Regions from separate parts of the Homo sapiens genome. Here region 2 is linked to region 1. A link means that fine-mapping ties the variant in region 1 to the expression of a gene that starts in the linked region. Tissue or cell type: whole blood. Region 1 holds a variant in brackets; the other region holds the start of a gene. All regions are shown on one strand. Distances are between the middles of the regions.

The links. PIP is the estimated chance that this variant, and not a neighbour inherited with it, causes the effect.
Region 2: it holds the start of DRAXIN, and the variant in region 1 is fine-mapped to the expression of DRAXIN in whole blood (TOPMed, PIP above 0.99).

What each region holds. Positions count from the first base shown.
Region 1 is chr1:11,731,120-11,733,871 of GRCh38, reverse strand. No RefSeq gene overlaps it. Among named protein-coding and RNA genes, the nearest start is that of AGTRAP, 3.6 kb to the left of the region's middle. RefSeq lists an enhancer at 1,691-1,780. The variant A/G (reference allele first, on the strand shown) is at 1,610.
Region 2 is chr1:11,690,676-11,693,427 of GRCh38, reverse strand. It overlaps DRAXIN (dorsal inhibitory axon guidance protein), which reads right to left and starts at 1,718. Exons shown (of 7, transcript NM_198545.4): 1 at 1,575-1,718. It also overlaps a transcript of MAD2L2 not described here. RefSeq lists an enhancer at 2,403-2,752.

The DNA of each region.
Region 1 (2,752 bases):
TTGGGAGGCTGAGGCCGGTGGATCACTTGAGGTCAGGAGTTCGAGATCATTTTGGCCAACATGATGAAACCCCGTCTCTACTAAAAATACAAAAATTAGCCAGGCATGGGGGTGTGCACCTGTGGTCCCAGCTACTTGGGAGGCTGAGGCAGGAGAATTGCTTGAACCTGGGAGGTGGAGGTTGGAGTGAGCCGAGATCCTGCCACTGCACTCTAGCCTGGGCAACAGAGTGAGATTCCATGTCAAAAAAAAAACAAAAAAACCGCAAAACAACTCCTAGGATTAGAGCTGACATTTACTAAACTGACATTTACAGGACCCTGTAGGGGCGGAAGGGTGTGATACCTTTCCTCACCCATCATAAAGGTCACAGCTGACACTCCTGTAAAAAAAGACTGCTTAACAAGAGAAAAGCATACCAAGTTTAGTTAAGCAAAGCTTCATGTGACATGGGAGGCTTCAGAGATGAAGACTCAAAGGCCCTGGGAAATCTGTCCATTTTTGTGCTTAGTTTCAAGGAAGAATGAACAGCCCTGTAGCAATGCAATTGGATAAAAAGAAAATGAACAAGTCTTGTCCAGATTCTTCTTGGGCTCTCCATGCAGCATTCCTTCCTCCTGGGTATGAGGTAGAACCCCTCTGTAATGAGGTCTTTAAAGAGAGAAGGGAGAGAGCCACCTTTCTAGGTTTTATGGCTACTTTGGAGACACGGGTTCTAGTTTCTGTGACCCACCTTGGAGAAGGAGGATTTTTTTTTTTTTTTTTCTTGAGACAAGGTCTTGCTCTGTTACCCAGGCTGGAGTGCAATGGTGTGATCATGGCTCACTGCAGCCTCAACCTCCTGGGCTCAGGTGATCCTCCCACTTCAGCCTCCTGAATAGCTGGGATTAGAAGCACCTACCACCATGACTGGCTAATTTTTGTATTTTTTTTTATAGAGACAGGGCTTGCCATGTTGCCCAGGCCGGTCTCAAACTCCTGGGCTCAAGCGATCCACCTGCCTCGGCCTCCCAAAGTGCTGGGATTACAGACTTGAGTCACCTCATCCCCTGCCAAAGGAGGAATTCTTGTTCTGTGACTGCCTCACGGGAGAAGGAGGGGCTGGAGACAGGAGGTCAGGAGGGCGTCACAGAGACCTTGCTTTTGAGGCCTCCAGTCTTCTGTAGTTCATAGTACTTAGCATGCCAAAGCACCAGATATTGGGGTGACATTTTCTGAGCCCCAACAGTAGTTGTCGTGTGGCAGACAGTGTGAAAGGGCTTCATAGTGGGCCAGGCACGGTGGCTCACATCTATAATCCCAGCACTTTGGGAGGCCAAGGCGGGTGGAACACCCGAGGTCAGGAGTTCGAGAACGGCCTGGCCAACATGGTGAAACCCTGTCTCTATTAAAAATACAAAAATTAGCCGGGCATGATGGCACATGCCTATAATCCCAGCTACTCGGGAGGCTGAGGCATGAGAATCGCTTGAACCCAGGAGGTAGAGATTGCAGTGAGCCGAGATCCTGCCATTGCACTCTAGCCTGAGAGACTGAGAGACGGAGCGAGACCCTGTCTCAAAAAAAAAAAAAAAAAAAAAGAAAGTTCTTCATAGTAAATGCTCACAAC[A/G]GAACTATGGCACGCGCTGTTCTTATTCCTGTTTACACTTAGGCAACTGAAATCAACAGAAGTGAAGCCGCTTGCTGCAGGCACAGCACTAATTGCTGCTGGAACTGCGGTGGGACCCAGGAAGCCTGGCTCCAGGACCCTGACGTGTAACCACACAGCAGAAAAATCCGGCCAGGGCTGAAATGAGAAGGATAGAGTGAAGCAAGTAGGAGAAGACAAGGATCGGAAGGCAGCACAAGGCTGGGCCTGTGGAACGTCCCTGTGGCTCAGACACTGACACTGTATTCATCTCCACCAGCTGGGGCCAGAGGCGGAGGGAGGAGAGCACGAGAACACCCAGCTGGCTGGGCGGGCTTGGCAGGCTGGTGGGGTTGGGGGGATGCGGGGAGGTGGGAAGCACGGAGAAACAAAAGAAAGTGAAACTGTCGGTATCCTCAAAGGAACCGGAGTTCCTGCCACGACCTATTCTTGGCTATGGAAGGACATAATAGACCCCCACGTGGCATTCCACAAGGCTTGGGGTCATGTATTGAGTGAGTACAGACACTCCCCAACTTACAATGGTCTGACATGATTTGTCTACTTTCCAACAGTGCGAAAGCGATCTGCGTTCAGTAGAAACCATATTTCCAGTCCCCAGTATAACCGTTCTGTTTTTCACTTGCAGTATAGTGTTCAATAAATTCCATAGGGTTTTCAGCACTTTATTATGAAATAGGCTTGTTTTTCATGATTTTGCACAACTGTAGGCTAATGTAAGTGTTCTGAGCATGTTTAAAGTAGGCTAGACTAAGCTATGATGTTCAGTAGGTTAGGTGTATTAAATGCATTTTATTTTCTTTTTTTGAGACAGGGCCCTCTAGGTGCTCTGTCACCCAGACTGGAGTACAGTGGTGCAACCTTGGCTCACTGCAGCCTCCAACTCCTGGGCTCAAGTGATCCTCCCATCTCAGCCTCCCAAGTAGCTGGTATTACAGGCTCACACCACCATGCCCAGCTAATTTTGCTTTTTTTTTTTTTCTTGAGATGAACTCTCACACTGTCGCCCGGGCTAGTGTGCAGTGGGGCGATCTTGGCTCGCTGCAGCCTGCACCTGCCGGGTTCAAGCAATTCTCCTGCCTCAACCTCCCAAGTAGCTGGGAC
Region 2 (2,752 bases), 40 kb after region 1:
AGTGGTCAGGGGGCTTGGGCAAGCACACAGCAGGTCCAGGAGCCAGCAAGACAATCCCCTCAGAGGAAAGGAAGTGGCCTGTGAGCTGGTGCCGCTATTAAAGGCATCAAGCCAAGACTGAGGTTCAGAATTGGGGGTGAGTCACCGGACGCCTTCTGATGGGTGATCAGTTGTTGGCAACACCAGCTCAGCCACACTGATCTCATTTTGAAAAAAAGTGACCCATTGGCCCTGATTGTTTTAGCTGATTTTAGGACAAGCAAAGAGGAGGAGAGAGAGAAAGAGAAGAGTGCTTGCAAGGGTGTGGACGCCTGTATGGGCACGAGGAGGTGAAGGTGACAGGAAGTGTGATGGGGGAAGAGGCTGTGGTGGTGGGGTTACTCTGAAGTGTCTCTAAGCCTTGACTTTGAGATCCATTTCTGTGGAGCCCCCTGTCCCCACCCCATCCCAGGTCTGTAGACTCCCCTCCCCTCCCCTCCCTTCCTCCACAGGGTGTGTGAACCAGCACCAAGCGGCACCCCACAATTTCCACACACATCCCTATAGGTAGGGACTAGCACCATCCCTGTTTTGTGACAGGAACACTGAGGCTCAGAGAGGTGCATTCCTTTGTCCGAGATCACTCCCAGAGCCCCAGTGTACCCGACTCCAGATGCATAGTACTGAACCGGTTCCAGACACCAGTGTGTCACTGGGCTGGGAGGTGGGCAGCGTGGAGGGAGCATATAGGGCAGGGGAGACCACCGGGCGGAGAGGATGGCCCAGGGAGCACCCAGCTGAGGAAAGCAAGAAAGACTTGGCGGGAAACCCCAGCCCTCTCTCATCTCATACCCCGGCCCCGAAGGCGGCTGAGACCCTTGACGAGCGGACGGAGAAAAGCCAAAAGCCGGCGGTGGGGAGCAGGAGGGACAGAGCGGGAGACCACAGGCGAAAGACCAGCGCCGTCGGGGGAGCCAGGCTGAGTACCTTCCTGGGCACAGATGGGACGGCGCGGGGCCACCGGCGGTGCTGGTTCCGGGCGCACTCAGCGACCCCGGCCACACACCCCAGCCTCCTGGGCGGCCTCGAAAGGGGCTGGAGGGCACGCCCGCCAGCTCTGCCCGGGGCTCAGGGAGTCTTCGAAGACTTCTTCCAACGGTGGCGGACTGGGGCCCCCTGCCTGAGAGACCACCCGGAGACTCAGAGACAGAGAGACAAAGGGAGACTGGGTCAGGGAGAGAGAAGGCTAGTGCCGAGGAGAGTAGGTGCGAGCCGGGACCCCAGAGGGCGGCGAGGGCGCGCGCGAGGCCGAGTGTCAGAGCGTGGAAAAGTGGGCGTCCAGCGGTAGGTGGACGGATGGGGAGCCCGGGAGCAGAGCCAGGGTCCGTGGGCAGACGCGGCGAGGAGAGGAGGCGGCGGAAGGACTGGCGGATAGACGGGTCCGAGGGCTGGGAAGGAGGCAGCATCCTCACTTCCAGCCTCGGGACCCCGCGCACCCCGCCCCTGGGCGCGCCAGGTAGCCCACCTTTGTCCGGGCTCGCAGCCAGGTGGGGCGGGAGGGGCGGAGCCAGGGGCGGGCCGAGGCCGTGCCTTACCTGTCCGGCCGGCGGGTAGGGGGAGGAGGGGCTCGGGGCCGAGCGCCCGCGGGAGCCGAGCGCAGCCGAGGGCGAGCCGCGGAACGGGGCCGGCGTGGAGAGGTGCGCGGGCAGCCGGAGGATGTGCCCGGGCTGAGCGGGACTGGAAGGAAGGGGGAGTGGGCGGGCAGGAGGGAAGGGGGCGGGAGCGCGGGGAGGGGACAGAGGAGGGGCGGCGGGTGGCGGGCTCGACTGCCCCCAGCCGAGGGGCAGCCCCGGGGCCGGGCCCGGCGCGCACCCGGCCAGCGCGCCCTCGCCAGCTGCGCTCTGAGTTCTGGGCCAGCTCCCCAGAGGCCTAGGCGCCGCCGCCGCGAGGGCGCGGGGCAGACAAAGGAGGCAGACAAAGGCGGGCGCAGCCCAGCAGCCGTGCGGGCACCGGGCGAGGCAGGCCCACTCCTCCCGGTGCGTAAGAGCCGCCTCGGCGCGGCCCAGGGCGCGTGGGACGGGAGGGGCTCCGGCAGTTGTGGCGCCTCTGGAGCGGCCCCGCGCAGGGCGGGCGACAAAGGGCCGCGGCGGGCGGTCCTCGGTGGACCCCAACAATGGAGCGAGGCTGCGCGCTCAGCTGCGGCCGCGTCTGTCAGGGCAGGGGCCCGGGGCCACAAAAGGATTATTCCGCCTAGACTGTCAAAAGGGACGGAAGAAATGCCCAGGGCGGGGGAGGCGGGACGGGGAACGGCGGGGCCTTTGTAGCCGCAGAAAGTGCGCAGAGTGGGCAGGCGGGGTTCTCCGAGAGGTCGCTCCTGGATGTAGGGGTACAAAGGGTCTTCAAAGTGCTACCAGCTCACCTGGGGCGCTGACGGCGCACCTGTGCCCTCTTTCCCGGTAGGGAAGGGAGAAAGACAACCGCCCCAATACACACACACACAAACACACACACACACACACTCACACGCGGCGCGGCTCTCGCCACGCCCCGTCCAAAGCCGGCCTGAAGCTTCTCAGACCGGCCCAACCCGGACAAAGCCAGCGCTGGGGCCGGCTCATCCATCACCGCGCGGGGCGCCGTGTCCTGACGACCCTGGGAGTCTGAGAATGCTGGGTTATGGGTCCCGTGCCTCCCATAACTCACGACGGGGTCGGTGGGGCCACGGACGCTGCAAAGATCAAAGAGCGATGGGGCCGGACTCCCATATGTGGGA